Homo sapiens: one gene and its partners. The protein of the gene in region 3 interacts with the protein of the main gene of each other region in a pairwise test. Each region holds a gene or a part of one and is shown on either strand. Other genes may lie near its edges. The genes, in order: UBE2L6, AKT2, NAMPT, IFITM3 and DISC1.

What was found.
Region 1: the proteins of NAMPT (region 3) and UBE2L6 interact in a two-hybrid assay, tested with the Homo sapiens proteins (one study listed by IntAct).
Region 2: the proteins of NAMPT (region 3) and AKT2 interact in a two-hybrid assay, tested with the Homo sapiens proteins (one large-scale study listed by BioGRID and IntAct).
Region 4: the proteins of NAMPT (region 3) and IFITM3 interact in binary tests that used the Homo sapiens proteins (3 or more experiments, as listed by UniProt).
Region 5: the proteins of NAMPT (region 3) and DISC1 interact in a two-hybrid assay, tested with the Homo sapiens proteins (one large-scale study listed by IntAct).

The regions. Positions count from the first base shown.
Region 1 is NC_000011.10:57,551,147-57,554,424, forward strand, and holds the end of UBE2L6 (ubiquitin/ISG15-conjugating enzyme E2 L6), read right to left. Parts: intron 1,364-3,278; coding exon 1,212-1,363; 3' UTR 516-1,211; downstream 1-515. UniProt on the Homo sapiens protein: Catalyzes the covalent attachment of ubiquitin or ISG15 to other proteins. Functions in the E6/E6-AP-induced ubiquitination of p53/TP53. Promotes ubiquitination and subsequent proteasomal degradation of FLT3.
Region 2 is NC_000019.10:40,240,335-40,243,856, forward strand, and holds part of AKT2 (RAC-beta serine/threonine-protein kinase), read right to left. Parts: intron 2,354-3,522; coding exon 2,200-2,353; intron 1,736-2,199; coding exon 1,604-1,735; intron 1-1,603. UniProt on the Homo sapiens protein: Serine/threonine kinase closely related to AKT1 and AKT3. All 3 enzymes, AKT1, AKT2 and AKT3, are collectively known as AKT kinase.
Region 3 is NC_000007.14:106,247,784-106,250,898, forward strand, and holds the end of NAMPT (nicotinamide phosphoribosyltransferase precursor), read right to left. Parts: 3' UTR 515-3,115; downstream 1-514.
Region 4 is NC_000011.10:319,154-322,010, forward strand, and holds IFITM3 (interferon-induced transmembrane protein 3), read right to left. Parts: upstream 1,708-2,857; 5' UTR 1,661-1,707; coding exon 1,412-1,660; intron 838-1,411; coding exon 685-837; 3' UTR 523-684; downstream 1-522.
Region 5 is NC_000001.11:231,696,278-231,699,799, reverse strand, and holds part of DISC1 (disrupted in schizophrenia 1 protein), read right to left. Parts: intron 1-3,522. UniProt on the Homo sapiens protein: Involved in the regulation of multiple aspects of embryonic and adult neurogenesis. Required for neural progenitor proliferation in the ventrical/subventrical zone during embryonic brain development and in the adult dentate gyrus of the hippocampus.

The DNA of each region.
Region 1 (3,278 bases), on a different chromosome or scaffold from region 3:
GTGGCTCACACCTATAATCCCAGCACTTTGGGAGGCTGAGGCGGGTGGATCACCTGAGGTCAGGAGTTCGAGACCAGCCTGGCCAATGTGGTGAAACCCCATCTTTACTAAAAATACAAAAATTAGCCAGGCGTGGTGGCGGGCATCTGTAATCCCAGTTACTCAAGAGACTGAGGCAGGAGAATCGCTTGAACTCAGGAGGCGGAGGTTGCAGTGAGCCGAGATTGCACTGCTGCACTCTAGCCTGGGCGACGGAGTGAGATTCTGTCTTAAATAAATAAATAAATAAATAAATAAATAAATAAATAAAATAAAATGGGGACGTCACCCCTGTGGACCTTCTGAAAGCTCCTCTGTCCAAGGATGGCCTATTTTTCCATGGCCAACATTCCTTATGATGTTTAGGGAACATTCAAGGGAAGCAAGGTCAGAAATTTATGCTTAAATCCCTAGTCCTCTATGGTCCTGATGAAACCACCCCATCCCCTCATCAAAGACTCAGCTGCACTCCAGAATTCATCTCTGACTTTAATGGCTTAAGCAAGAACATGGTTTCCGTGGCTCCCCCTGGACTGAATGCTGGAGGATATATACTTCACAGTCTGAGGCCTGGTCCCAGGAACTGGCAATCTAACAGGATGGCAAGTGGTTTTGAAACATATAGATTTTCAGGATGGAAGTTTGATTCTTCAGATTGTGACTCATCCGTGGAAAATAAATGGTTTAGCACCTAAATCTGTATATTCCCATCAGTGGCTTGGCTGACTCAGTTGTAAATAGGGTACCCTCCATCTGTCTCCCACCCATATGCTCCACTGTCCCCAGGCCCTCAGTGCCTGAGCCCTAGGGGGATTCGAGTTGGCTGCTGGATTCATTTCCTGCAAGCAGGCCTGCAAGGTGACCTGTCTCTCTAAGATGGAGAGCTGGAGAACTGGCCTGTAACTGCAAACTTAAACTCCCTTGGCTCTGGGGAATGTAAAGGGTGTGGGAAGGGTGCACCTGTGGCCAGGTGAACCTGGGAGTGAGTCCATACACAACACACACACTCATAGCTCCCTTCCCTCCACCACACACACACACAAACTAATGACTAACAACCTAAGAAGGGAAAAATGAATGGGGAATGGGCCACAGGGGGCTCTGGCCTCAGTCCATGAGGTGTGTCCGTCCGCTATGCCGAGGATCCAGTGCACAGAGGGTCAGAACATGAGTTAGGAGGGCCGGTCCACTCCGAATCGGAGGGTGAACTCTTCGGCATTCTTTCTGAACAGCTCCGGATTCTGTGTCAGCAGGTCAGCGAGGTCCATCCGCAGGGGCTCCCTGATATTCGGTCTATTCACCAGCACATTGAGGGCCTCCAGGACTGGGGAGAGACAGGCCAGATCAGGATATCAGGGCAGAGGGAAGGGAGTCATGGCTGCCCGTTCCCAATGTCCTGACACTCCACACTCACTCCTTGGGGGAAAGGTTACATCGCTTAGGATTACTCTACGACCAGATCAAACGCCCCGCTCATTCTTGGCTGGTGACACCCAAGGCCTTGACTGATTACATCAGTGGTTTTCAAACAACTACATTCCATGGCTTCAGAGAAGCTCCTCATCACAGGGGCCACTGAGATAAGTGAGGTTTCTGGGTCTTATCCCCATTTCAACAAAAACTGCTCTGTTTTCCTCCATTATATTGGTAGTCCAAATAAACTTTTCCTTGGGCAAAAGAGGTCTAAGGCTAAAGACTGAAAACCACCACTGCCCCCTGGCTCTTCATCTTTCACAGATGCCTTTGGGAACCTAGTGAAGGCAGCAGCCCATCTCCCGAGACAGATGTGCACATCCACATGCAAAACAGACAGTTCCCAGACCCCCTGAAGCTCATCCAAGGACCACTCCTCTCCCTGCTCCCACTCCCACCAACCTAAGGACTTTCATTTCCTGAGTTAAAAACTCCTGAGCTGGTCCAGGTGGAGGATTGCACACTGATTCAGCCACAGGCTCTAGAGCTGTGTTGTTCAATATGGTAGCCATTAGCCACATGCAGGCATCTAAATTTAAATGAATTAAAATCAGGCTGGGCACGGTGGCTCACGCCTGTAATCCCACCACTTTGGGAGGCCAAGATGGGTGGATGGCTTGAACTCACGAGTTTGAGACCAGCCTGGGCAATATGGCAAAACCTGGTATCTACAAAGCATGCAAAAATTAGCCAGGTATAGTGGCATGCTCCTGTAGTCCCAGTTACTCGGGAGGCTGAGGTGGGAGGATGGCTTGAGCCCAGGAGGTGGAGGTTGCAGTGAGCCAAGATTGCGCCACTGAACTAACTGCCTGGGCAATAGAGACAGACCGTGTCTCAGTAGAAAAAACAAAAAGGATTAAAATTAAGTACAATTAAGAATTGAGTTCTGGCCAGGCGCAGTGACTCACACCTGTAATCCCAGCACTCTGGGAGGCGGAGGCAGGCGGATCGCCTGAGGTCAGGAGTTCGAGACCAGCCTGGCTAACATGGCAAAACCCCTCTCTATTAAAAATACAAAATAGCTGGGTGTGGTGTCATACGCCTGTAATTCCAGCTATTCAAGAAGCTGAGGCCGGAGAATCGCTTGAACCTGGGAGGTGGAGGTTGCAGTGAGCCAAGATCGCGCCACTGCACTCCAGCCTAGGCGACAGAGCGAGACTCTGTCTTAAAAAAGAAAAAGAATTGAGTTCTTCAGTTGCAACAGCCACATGTGGCTTGCGAGTCAGCCAAGTGCTGCCGTTTGTCATCTGTATGACCTTAGGCAACCACTTCACCTCTCACATGCCTCAGATGTCCGGGTCTACTAAACAACACTACCTCACGGGCTTGTTGGGGAAATAAAAATGAAGTCGGCAGGTGATGTTTTTAGCACAGTGCCGAAAGTGCTCAGTCAAGTGACAGGTATTATCATTATGAGGCCAGTTCCCTCCACTGTCATTTAGGACACCGAGTCCCAGAAAGGAACGAAAACTTGCCCAAAGTCCACAGAGGGAACAGCGGGCTTTCTTTTCCCGAGCCCTTCCCTGTGCAGCCAAGCTGCCTCTCCCATGAACCGCAGCAACGTTCCTCTGTCACAACTGCACAGGTATAAGAAGAGAGGCAGGAGGAGGTCAGTCTGTCCAGGAAGCATCCCTTCTATCTCATAGTAAGTTCAGCCAAGACTCACAATTTTTATCTCCTCTCTTTGGGGCTTTTCAAGCTCAGAATAAGCTGTGAACCCCCTCTCCAGTAATCTCTACCCAGTATCAGTCCCTCCTCCAAGCAAA
Region 2 (3,522 bases), on a different chromosome or scaffold from region 3:
GTCACAATGTAAGGACCAGGCTGCTAGGGACAAGACACCTGTGACGTCCCTGCAAGGGAGACAAACAGACATCACGAGAGCCCCGAGGTGCCACCACAGGCTGTGGGAAGTCCCACCTAGAAAGCATTCTTGCCCAAAGAAGGAAAAACAGTGCTTCTTGGTGTGGTCCCCACACAGCACCTCAGCACCGCCTGGGAACTGGCAGCAATGCAAATTCCTGGGACCTACCCCCAGGCCCACTGAGTCAGAAACTCGGGGTGGGCCCAGCACTGTCTCACAAGCCCTTTGGGTGACTCTAATTCAGGTTCTAATTTGGTACCTGACTGTACAGCAGAACCACCAGGAGTGGTTCCAAAAATCTGGAGCCACCTGCAGCAACGTGAACACAGGCTCTCTCTGGGGCAAGTTTATCCCCAGGGGACACCTGAGAATGTCTGAAGTCTTTTTTTTTTTTTTCCCTTTTTTTTTTTAGCTGGGGGTCTGGCTCTGTCGCCCAGGCTGGAGTGCAGTGGTGTGAACATGGGTCACTACAGCCTCAACCTCTGAGGCTCCACTGATCCTCCCACTTCAGCCTCCTGAGCAGCTGGGACTACAGGTGCACGCCACTATGCCCAGCTAATTTATTTTTATTTTTACAGAGACAGGGTCTTGCTTTGTTGCCCAGGCTGGTCTCGAACTCCTGGGCTCAAGCGATCCTCCCACCTCAGCCTTCTAAAGTGCTGGAATTACAGGCGTGAGCTGTGGCGCCCAACCCAAAAGTCATTTTTGATTGTCACAACTTGGGGAGCTAGTATTGGCTTCAGTGGGTAGAAGCCAGGGGTGCTGCTGAAACCCTAGAATGCACAGGGCTGCCCCGACAGCGCAGAATCATCTGTCCCAAAACGTTAACAGTGCTGAGGCTGAGGAAGGCTGCCTTAGGCCCAATCGTCACATCAGGAATGAACAGCTAATTTGGTTGGCTCTGATGGCAGCACCACATGATTATATTCTTTACAGTCTTCATCTGTCAGGACACATGTTCAAGTATGGATGAGTGAAGTGACGTGTTGTCTAGGACAGGCCTTAAAGTATTCCAGAACAAGAGGGACAGGCAGAGCTAAGGAAACAAGGCTGGCTAAACGCTGATAACTGGTTAAACTGGACAATGGCTACATGGGGGTCCGTAATATTTATTTTCTTTTTAAATTTTTGAATGTCTTTGGAATCTTCCACTACAAAAAATTCAAATAAGGGAAAAAGTAGAATTCCACTCCTGGCCCGGCCTCCACCTGGGATACCCTGAGCAAAGCCCGGGACTCCCCAACAGCGACGTCCTCCCCAACAGGCCCCAGCCTCCCTTGACAGTACCTGCTGGGTGGGGCCCCGAGGCTCTCTCTCTCCACAGGCACCCCCAGCCCCTAACATAGGGTGGAGGTGGGGACTCAGCAGCAAGGCCTGCTGCTCCTCTCTGGGCCTCAGGCTCCCCCTTTTCTGACTAGGGGGAATTTGTGGGGGAAATAAGCCCACAGCAGCAGAAAGCGCGGGTAAGCGTCCAGGCCTCAGGGTCAGGCTCCAGACCGCAGCCCCCACAGAGGCTCGCGAGCGCAATTCCCGGGGCACGCACCTTGGCAATGATGACTTCCTTCCGCAGGATCTTCATGGCGTAGTAGCGGCCAGTGGCCTTCTCCCGCACCAGGATGACTTTGCCAAAGGTTCCCTTGCCAAGGAGTTTGAGATAGTCGAAGTCATTCATGGTCTGCCAGGGACAGGGAGAGTGGGGGCAGTCAGCGCCTGGCTCATGGCCCGTGGGAGGAAATTTTAACAAAAGAAAGAGGAAAACCAAAAGACACTGTTGCCAAACGGCTTAGGCTGGAGCAGGAAGGGAGGCTCTGGGCAGCAACTGTGTGTTCTGAAGCGGCCTTCAGACCAGGCTCTGCAGGCACAGGGCCTTGGGAGGGCTGGGCTCTGACGTGGGGGTAGCCAGGTCTTCACCAACTCCCAGGACGAACCTGCAGTGGGTCCACCCAAGGTTGCTCCCTCCCCTACGGGCATGGAGCACACCCTAGGGCACCTGCCACCTGAAATCACCCCACCCTGCAGGGCAGCCTTGTCTCTCAGCTGAGCCCCCTGAACTGTGTTATGGAAACCAAGGAGAGCAGGCCAGCACTGGGGGTGGGGGCACCGCAGGCTGGCAGCCCCACCCCTGCTCCCAGCACTTACCACTTTAGCCCGTGCCTTGCTGACCGCCACTTCCATCTCCTCAGTCGTGGAGGAGTCACTGGGGGAGCCACACTTGTAGTCCATGGGGTCCTCGCCTGGGGCCCGCTGCTTGAGGCTGTTGGCGACCATCTGGATGGCCCGCATCCACTCCTCCCTGTGCAGGGACACACGTGAGTCCCAGCAGCCAGGAGTCCTGGGCCTCAGAGTCGAACAGCTGAGTGCCACCTCCCAGCCACCCCCAGCAACAGGCAAGCAAATGACCACATAACCATGGGAATTTGGGCAAGATCTGTCAGAACCAGAGAGAGCTGAAGGGACCTGAGTGAAATTCCACGCCAGGCGCAGTGGCTCATGCCTATAATCCCAGCACTTTGGGAGGCTGAGGCGGATGGATCACAAGGTCAGGAGTTCGAGACCAGCCTGGCCAACATGGTGAAACCCCGTCTCTACTAAAAATACAAAAATTAGTCAGGGGTGGCATTCGCCTAATCCCAGCTACTCAGGAGGCTGAGGCAGGAGAATTGCTTGAACCCGGGAGGCGGAGGGTGCAGTGAGCAGAGATCGCACCACTGCACTCCAGCCTGGTGACAGTGCGAGACTCCGTCTCAAAAAAAAAAAAAAAGTGGAATACCAAGAGCGATCACCAATTTCCCTAAAGTGACCTGGCCTGAGGGCCATTTGAAGCCAGGCAGCAGGGAAATGATCAAAAAGGAGTGACCCTCTCTTTTCACAGCCCCTTGAAAATGAGCCACCACCCTGAGCCTTGAATGAGGGAGAGAGAGTGCTCCTGTGAATTCTTCGGAACAAATGACAAGCTCAAGTTTATAAGTTACCAATGTTTTGTAAAGTTAAACCAAGAGTAAGAAGCAGCATTCATTAGCCAAAGGAGCTGAAGACACTGCAAGGCAAGAGCTGGCCCGCAGGACTCCCTGGAGGGGACAGTCCACTGGGAGCAGGGAGTCTGCATGGCAGGGACAGAGGTCCTGGCAGCCCAGGGATGTAGAGGAGAGAAGCTGGTGGACAAGAAGTAGGTCCCAGCAGAAGGGAGCCTGGTTTAAGAACAGTTAACTAGAGGCTAAGCACTGTGGCTCACACCTGTAATCCCAGCATTTTGGGAGGCCAAGGTGGACCAAGTGCTTGAGCCGAAGCGTTCAAGACCAGCCTAGGTAACAAAGCAAGACCCATCTCTTAAAAAGTTTTTAAAAAACAAAAATAAAAAATAAAAACAGGCCAGGTGCGATGGCTCACGCCTGTAATCCCAGCACTTTGGGAGGCCAAGGTGGAGGATCACTTGAGGTCAGGAGTTCGAGACCAGCCTGGCCA
Region 3 (3,115 bases):
GCCACTGTGGCAAGAAAACAGCCAAAGGCAGTAACTAAATAAATGGGTGTGGCTATGTTCCAATACAGTTATTTACAAAAACAGATGGTGGGCTGGATTTGGCTCATGGCGTGGGGTTTGCCAACTCCTGCTCTATACTATCCCTAGAAGAGTATCCTTTACTGTGTGCTTCCAAAGATGTATACCTTCCAAGGTATACATCAGTCATACCTTGAGGCCCTTCTGTCCACAAACCTGTATCATCAACTGCCTACTTAATACCTACATTTAGATATGTCAAAGGCGTCTCAAGCCTTAACACGGGAATCGTGCTCTTTCCTCTCAAATCTGATGTCCCTCCAGTGTTCTTCCTTAGTAAAAGGCACTGTCATCTATACAGTTGCACAAAGCAGAAAAGGAGTCAACTCTGACACTTGCCCTTCTCTCATCTTCTAATTCTTTGAACTGGAGGAATACTTAAAACAGGTAGGCCTGAAAATGGCATTACTTGAAGCACACAAATTTAACACTTCACTAATAGAGCTAAACTTTATTTCCATGTTTATTACATGTTTATAACTTGATGTTGAGTACATATTAGAATAGACTTAACATACAACTTGGGAGAAAAGCTGACATTCTCCACTGAATGGGTTAAAAAGGAATGTAAAACTACAAAATACTTAAGTGTGAGTTCTAAATTATGGCAAACAGAACAATAAATACCTTGCCATTTTTCTTTCTAATTTTCCAAGATAGATTTCATTATAAAAATTGTTTGATAACAATTTAAGAAGGGAAAACAAGGGATACTCATAAAAAACATTTTACTTTAATTATAGGGTACAAATAAGAGTCTTAACACAGAAATCCTACCTCCTATTTAAGATATAAATACTTGATGATATAATCAATCAAGAGGGATTAATTAATGTCAGTTGAAAATCTAATGACTTAAATCCATAAATGCCATTTGCTTTTGTCTGGAAGATTTAGACTGATTTAAGGGTGACACACAGCAGAGTTCTAGTGGACATTCGTGTTAACCGTTTGGTGCTCAGAATGGAGATGGCCAAATACCAAGTGCTTAGTGACAGAAAGTCAGAATTAATCAGTTCCAAGTGACTAAGAGCCAATAGAATTAATCTCCATCTCCTGATTTATGGTTGTGAACAAAGAGATAGCTTTTTTCACTGCAAATTTCTAAATTAAACTCTATTCTGAAGCTGCTGAAATTCACAGAACACAGAGAATACTGTCTGTACTATAATTTCAATGTTTAAACACAAAATTATGGGTGATTATCAAAACTATTATTGGTAATAGTTTCTTTTGATTCTTTACACGCCCCTTAGCACATTTTGTGAAGAAATGTGTGTTTTTCTTAATACTACTCATCTTTACTCAAATACATTAAAAAATCATTTTAAAATTATTTTATATCATGGATTACAGAAGACTTACTAAAAGTGAATAATGCTTATTGTTCTCACTACATGTTTAAAGAACCATCTGAAAAACATATTCTTTCTAATACCACTTACAAAAAACATTTAATGAAGATAACACTTCTAATTAGGTTATTCTAGTGATCATTTTCTCATGTAACTATTTAAAACAGATGATTTATGGCTTTTCAATTTTTAAAATTTCACATTTAATGTCATGTTAAAAACTTTTCTAAATCAGTCTTCCAGTATCGGATTCTTAAGTGAGAAAAAAGAAGACAAAAGAGGAAAATTCCGTATCAATTATTTAGCCTCCTCCCTTCCCTAGAAACCAACATTTCCTTTTAAATGCAAGGCACACTCCTTTTCTTAGAACAGAGATCAGGAAACTTTTTGTGTAATTTTGTGTAAAGGGCAGGTTAATAAACATTTTGGGCTTTGCGATTCTCATTTGGCTTCTATTGCAGCTGTTTACCTTAGGCTGGAGTAGTGGGAAAGCAGCCATAGACAATCTGCATTTATAAAAAGAAGTCCAAATTTGGCCTTTGGGCTATAGTTGGCCAACCGCTGCCTCAGAAGAACAGATCTACATACATAAAAGAATCATTCGAAAGAAACTGGTCTCTAGTCAGATGTGATGTATGATTCAGAATCTAGTAGCTAATCACTCTAGAACATTTTGATGTCAAGCACTTTGAATTTAGCCAACTTAAGATTCTTCTATTGAAACACATGTCATGCTTTTCATTGGAGATAATTTATCTTCATTTAAGAATGTGCTTCAGTATTACTTATTGAGGGCATTCAGTTTAAAATTAATAAATGATGTCCATACAATTTAATATCCAATTTAATTTTTTAAAAACTTAATAAAAAATATAACAGAATTGAAACATTTAAGTACACTCACTACCCACTCCAGTAATTCATTTAAGTCATACCAACTATAGAATATGAAAAATAAATTCAGAAGTGTAATTACTTTAAAATACACTACTTCCACTTTTGTAAGTATTTTACATTTATGTATATATTCTATAGTGGAAGCAGAAATTCTCTCTAAAAACATTATCTCCTTAAAATCTTGAGGTGCATATTAGAGCCACAGGCAATCTCTGACATATAAAATTGCAGTACAGGCCTTTCAAATTTGGCATTTCACTGGTACAATACAACAACCAAGATATATAATAACTGTACAGTGCCTAGACATTCCAGTAAGAACCATTATTTTCTTTAATGTAGAATGATTAATACATATTCTACAAGGGGCAGTAAGGTTAGTAATTCTATAGGGTATGTCCCGACATAATTTTCAAATTGTACAATAACACAAACAACTTTGTTAAGGCCATGTTTTATTTGCTGATTAATGGACAAAAGGCAATGTAATTTATTTTCAAGTATTTTCTTGAAAGTCTGTGCTCATAAAAATCATGAAAAGTTGGAAAGACTGTTAAATCACTGAAACTTCAAATATATCTTACACAATCTTGTTTGTACAAAAATACAAGTTAAATATAAACATAAAGCAATCATGGTAATTTTATGCAAATCTGTTTTATGTGATCATCAGTTATATATAAAAGTTTCTCAGTTCTGTTATTTGTGAAAAGATCAATACCAGATTGAATGACTACCTATTGGCAAAGGGCCCTAAAAAGCTTACTTTAGCACTCATCTTTTAC
Region 4 (2,857 bases), on a different chromosome or scaffold from region 3:
CCACGGGCCCTGAGCTGCCCACATCTGCAGGACTGGCTGCTCCAGACAGCTCGGAGGCAGGCAGCGCGGTGCCCCCTCCACCCCGAGGAACTAAAGCCAGGTCCCCAGCACCACAGAGCAGGGCCTGGGAGCAGCTGGGGAGCCGGTGCCACCTTGCCCCTCCCTGGCCCTGCTGGGGGCTTAACCCTTCCCTCTGTCCTGAGCCGACAGCCTGGATTGCCGACAGGCCGCGAGCGTGGCCTTGGGCCCAGGGTGTCCCGGACTCAGCACTGACGTTCCCGGAAAGAGCCCACGTTGAGTAGGAGCTGAGACCTGCAGGACACAGGAACTCCTCCCAGGGTCCTGGATCCAGCTGCTGCTCACGGCAGGAGGCCCGAAACCAGAAGGCCTGAGCACTTGCCCGGTCCCCAAGAGATGCACAGAGGCCGGAAGGGGCAGTGCAGGGGCTGACCAACCTGCTCAGTCTCAGAACCACGCTCCGAACCCTCAGCCAGACCCCTCCCCAGGTGAAGTCGCAGCAGCACCAGAAACACGTGCACTTTATTGAATGCCATTGTAGAAAAGCGTGTGAGGATAAAGGGCTGATACAGGACTCGGCTCCGGGGGCAGGGCGAGGAATGGAAGTTGGAGTACGTGGGATACAGGTCATGGGCAGAGCTCCTGGCCTCAGTGATGCCTCCTGATCTATCCATAGGCCTGGAAGATCAGCACTGGGATGACGATGAGCAGAATGGTCATGAGGATGCCCAGAATCAGGGCCCAGATGTTCAGGCACTTGGCGGTGGAGGCATAGGCCTGGGCCCCGGTCACGTCGCCAACCATCTTCCTGTCCCTAGACTGGGGGAGAGGAGATGGTGAGGGGACCAGGATCCCCCAGCTGAGAGCCGCGTGCTATGGCTCCGTCTCCTCATTGGCTCTCCCCGCCCTGAGATCAGGGACCACCTCCTCCCCTTCCTCACCCGGGCTCAGACTCTCCAGGAGCCTCGGGGCTCATCCTCCTTCTGCCTTGACCTCAGCACAGGCTGTTCTCCCCACCATGGGGTGAAGTCACCTGTGAGTTCCCTTCTCACTTTCTGGGAGAGCCTGGGTGCCAGTCTGGAAGGTGAAGGTGTAATTTCTTACTGGGCTATAGGGAGAACTGCTCTGGGCTAGTGGATAGCCGGGGACAGACTCTGAGCCAGCCAGCCAGCCTCCTGGAGCCTCCTCCTAAACCTGCACTGGGCAGATTCCCCAAGCCACACACACACACAGATCACACAGACAAAGCCACTGACGTGGGCACACACGGGACAGAGGTGCACACAAACTCACAGTCACAGGGACACACAAGTCCCCACCCCAGGCAGCATGTGGGCAGGTGGAGCTCCAGGCTCAGCGGCACCCTCTGAGCATTCCCTGGGGCCATACGCACCTTCACGGAGTAGGCGAATGCTATGAAGCCCAGGCAGCAGGGGTTCATGAAGAGGGTGTTGAACAGGGACCAGACGACATGGTCGGGCACGGAGGTCTCGCTGCGGATGTGGATCACGGTGGACGTCGGGGGAGCAGGGTTGTGGGGCGCCCCCAGCACAGCCACCTCGTGCTCCTCCTTGAGCATCTCATAGTTGGGGGGCTGGCCACTGTTGACAGGAGAGAAGAAGGTTTGGACAGTGTGATTCATGGTGTCCAGCGAAGACCAGCGGCGGTCGGGTTACTGGGATGGTTCTCAGTGAGCCCTCCCTTTCCCCAGTAGTTTCGGTTTCTCAACAGTTTCCTTTTCCTGGCATTTGTCAAATCGGGATTTGGCCGGGGCCAGATGAGGGCGGAACAAATTCCTGAGGATCAAATTACTTTAGGAGAGGGAGGAAAGAGGGGCTGAGGGCTAAGAGGGGCTTCCTCTCTAGAGCCCAAGGGAGCACAAGGCTCATCTTGTTAGTGGTGTGGGGTCCTGGAGACTTCCCCTGTGTTGGGGGTCTCCACACCCCAGGCCAGCAGCTGCAGGACCCCACTGTCCCGGTTCAGGGCTCCTGCCAGGCCTGCGCTGACGCCTCCACACTCCAGGCCCCACAACCGTTCCCCCAAAGCCCTCACCTCTGCCGGGCGCCGCGGCTCACGCCTGTAATCCCAGCACTTTGGGAGGCTGAGGTGGGAGGATCATGAGGTCAGGAGATCGAGACCATCCTGGCTGACACGGTGAAACCCCGTCTCCCATAACCCTCACTGTGGTGCCCAGGCAGCTGGATTATCCCATTACCTTCACTATGGTGCCCAGGCAGCTGGATTATCCCATTACCTTCACTATGGTGCCCAGGCAGCTGGATTATCCCATTACCTTCACTATGGTGCCCAGGCAGCTGGATTATCCCATTACCTTCACTATGGTGCCCAGGCAGCTGGATTATCCCATTACCTTCACTATGGTGCCCAGGCAGCTGGATTATCCCATTACCTTCACTATGGTGCCCAGGCAGCTGGATTATCCCATAACCCTCACTGTGGTGCCCAGGCAGCCGGATTATCCCATTACCTTCACTATGGTGCCCAGGCAGCTGGATTATCCCATAACCCTCACTGTGGTGCCCAGGCAGCCGGATTATCCCATTACCTTCAGTGTGGTGCCCAGGCAGCCGGATTATCCCATTACCTTCAGTGTGGTGCCCAGGCAGCTGGATTATCCCATAACCCTCACTGTGGTGCCCAGGCAGCTGGATTATCCCATTACCTTCACTATGGTGCCCAGGCAGCTGGATTATCCCATAACCCTCACTGTGGTGCCCAGGCAGCCGGATTATCCCATTACCTTCAGTGTGGTGCCCAGGCAGCCGGATTATCCCATTACCTTCAGTGTGGTGCCCAGGCAGCTGGATTATCCCATTAC
Region 5 (3,522 bases), on a different chromosome or scaffold from region 3:
GACCATTTAAAAGTTCTGATTTTACTCTGAAGTTCATGGGGCGCCACTGGAGAGTTTGGGGCAGAGGAGCACATGATCTGACTTATGTTTTAAACAGTTTCACTCTGGCTGCTGTTAGTAAGAGCAGAAGAAGGGAGGCCAGGTAAGAGGCTATGGGAACATTCAGGAAGGAGATGACAGGAGCTTGGATGATAGTGAGGATGGTGGCAATGGTGAAGATGGTGAGATGTGATCTGATTCCGGTTATATTCAGAAGACCGCTGGTTAAATATAGAGCCAACAGGATTTGCTAATACATCACAGGTGGGGTCTGAGGAAAATGCACCAGGATGATGCCAAGGTTTGTTTTGTTTTTTGTTTTTTGGGTTTTTTTTTCTGACCCACTGGAAGAATGGAGTACTTATTGCACCAGGTTATAGCCATCATTTTCCTTTGTTTGGTTTTATCTGTGCACATCATTCAACCTTGAGCATCTGGGGGGCAAGAACTATTTTGCATCCATGTATAGGATGCTAGTACTTACACTGACTTGATTTTCCACTGCTTTGGGCACATGGAAAGAGTACAAGTGCCTCTCTCCTTGTTCTGCTGAACAGGGTATGAGTGGCAGTGATGGGGTTACCTCTACGCTGAAGCATTTGATCGCTCTTGTAGGACTCCCTAACATTCTCTTCCTCAAGTCTGTGACTAAGGGGATCATATGTTCAGATGGTGCAGGCTGGGTTCTTGCCCCCCAAAAATCTCTGTGGAACATGAAGCATACGCAAAAAACACAATTTTGTTGTGTTGAGCCTCTAACGTAGTGCCTGTTACTAGCCTGTCCTAATACAATCTCCAAAGCCTAGGATAAGGCATTGTACTCGTTGTCATTGATAAATGCTTTCTGAATGAATGAAAGAATGAATGAATAATCATATTAACCCCTTTGTCTTTGAATTGTTCTATATTACAACTGCAAAGTTTACCAGTAACTTAGTCCTATATATTAGGGACAGAAGAAAGGCTGTGTGAATGGTTTGAGGGCCACATAAAGCTATAGCATTACCATCGCCACACCCAAATGATGGTATCATTAAACATTTATTAGAACAGAAGCTGAAGAAATGCAGGAAACAAGGTCAGGAAAAAAATTCATTTACAGCCAAAGCCCACCCCACGATGCCCACCTCGTCCAGTGATCTCTATAAGGCCCTGAATGGACTGCCCTGAGATATGTCTGAATACCCGTCTTTGCTGGAGGCACAGCCCCAGTGGCCATGTCTTGCACTGTGCCACAACCCTGCCTGTGGAACGTCCTATAATACTCTACAGGCAGAGTCCTTCATTTTTCACCAGTTTCCATGGCCTTAGGTGGAGCCTACCTTGCAGGGCCCACTCCACTTCCCCTCCTCTGCATGCCTGGTCACCAACTACCTTTATTACCATCTTCTCAGTCCCATGCAACCCCTGGAAATCTCGCTAAGCAGCGATTTCTAAACAGCATAAAATATTCACAGTCGATTCTCCTTATTCACAGTACTGTAGTTATGTTCTATAAAGTTTCTGTGAATACTGAATTAGGGAATAATGAAGCATTGCTCCTAAGAGAAATACAGGGTAGGTTCCTGTGAACCCCTGGTCACAACACCTTCCTCCATCGGTCAACACATGACCTTGTTCTATGTGTGTTTCTGTTTAAAAACATCTTATTTAATATGTATTATTGATCCATAAGCATTGTACTCTGGCCAACAGCACTCTAACTCATGCCTGAATAAAGTTTCTGGAGCACCTGTATCTTCTCCATCAGGCCCATCACAGCCTTCTCATGCTTAGGAGCACTAGATGACATTAGCACTATGCTTAGGGAGCTTTTGCAATGGTTAACTCACCAATAAAGAGCACAAAAATGTAAAAAAAGATGGCATTAAATAGACCACAAAAAGGATACTAGTTTGTAGTATGAGAGAGAAGGTAGAATGTCATCTGGTCTGAACTTGTTTGACCTAAGTAGAAAGCGTGTACATCAGGTGACCCAAATATTTTGCCACTCTGTGCAGGTTCAAAATTACCACCAGGCATGGTGGCTCATGCCTGTAATCCCAGTACCTTGGAGGCTGAGGCAGGAGGATCATTTGAGGCCAAGAGTTCAAGACCAGTTTGGGCAACGTGGCAAGACCCTCATCTCTACCCAAAAAAAAAAAAAAAAAAAAATTAGCCAGGCATGGTGGCATGCGCCTGTAGTCCCAGCCACTAGGGAGGCTGAGGCAAGAGAATCGCTTGAGCCCAGGAGTTCAAGGTTGCAGTGAGTTATGATCACACCACTGCACCCCAGCCTGGAAGACAGAGACCCCGTCTCTTAAAAAATAAAATAAAAATGAAAAATGACCATAAAAGTGCTGTGAGTACTGATTTTGGAGTTAACAACAAATTTTAGCAAGTAGACGAATTCACACATATAGAATCCACAAACACTGAGGATCAACCATCTTTTAGAAGAAGCTGAAACTTAAATTCCTGAGATTCTCATTTTTACTTAAGTAGAAGCGAGAGGAGGTTAAGGAATTAAAATATAATATCAATAAGGCCCCCAAACACTAGAAATCCTACTCTTTCAAAGGATCTTTTTGGAGATCCTTCACCGACCTTCTGCCCTGTCCCGAAGGCCTCAGCCGCAACCCCAGTGAGCAGTCTGGGGCCTCTGTGTAAGCACCATGGGAAAACAAGTCCCTGACCAGCCCACCTCATCACAGACAATTCCCACTGTCAAGAGGTTCTTCCTCCTATTGAGGCAAACTCTGCCTTCCTGTAAGTCCTATGCCCTGGACTGTGTTATTTCTGTCATTCCCACTACTCTGTTAATTCCGCTGTCACACAACAGATACTCAAGTACAGCCTAGCGTTACTTAATGACAGGGATGCATTCTGAGAAATGCATTATTAGGTGACTTCATCATTGTGTGAACATCGTAGAGTGTGCTTACACAAATCTGGATGGTGTAGCCCATTACACACCTAGGCTAGATGGAATAGTCTATTGCTCCTTGGCTACAAACCTGTGCAGCATGTGACTGTACTGAATACTGCAGACAAGTGTCACACAATGGTAAGGTATTGTTGTATCTAAACATATCTGAACATAGAAAGGGTACAACAAAAACACAGTACGATAATCTCACAGGACCACTGTCACATCATATATGTGATCCGTCATTGGCCAAAATGTCATTATGCAGTACATGAGTGTAATTGAAGAGAGTGTCATGTTTTTCCCTGCCCAGCTGTGGGACTGCCATAGACAACAATACTTACACTAAAGAAAAAGTGTGTCCAGATTCTACCATTTGAGATAAGATAGGAATTTAATTTGAGCTATGGACAGAAGGGAGAGCTTCATTTGCTTTTGACTCAAACTCTCTAAATTGGAGCTATTTCTCTAATGATGACAATGGTTAATTTCTGGGTACTTGCTAGATGCCAGGCCCTGTCTGAAGCACTTTGCACATATGATCACATTTAGTTTAATTAACTGGAGAAGAGAAA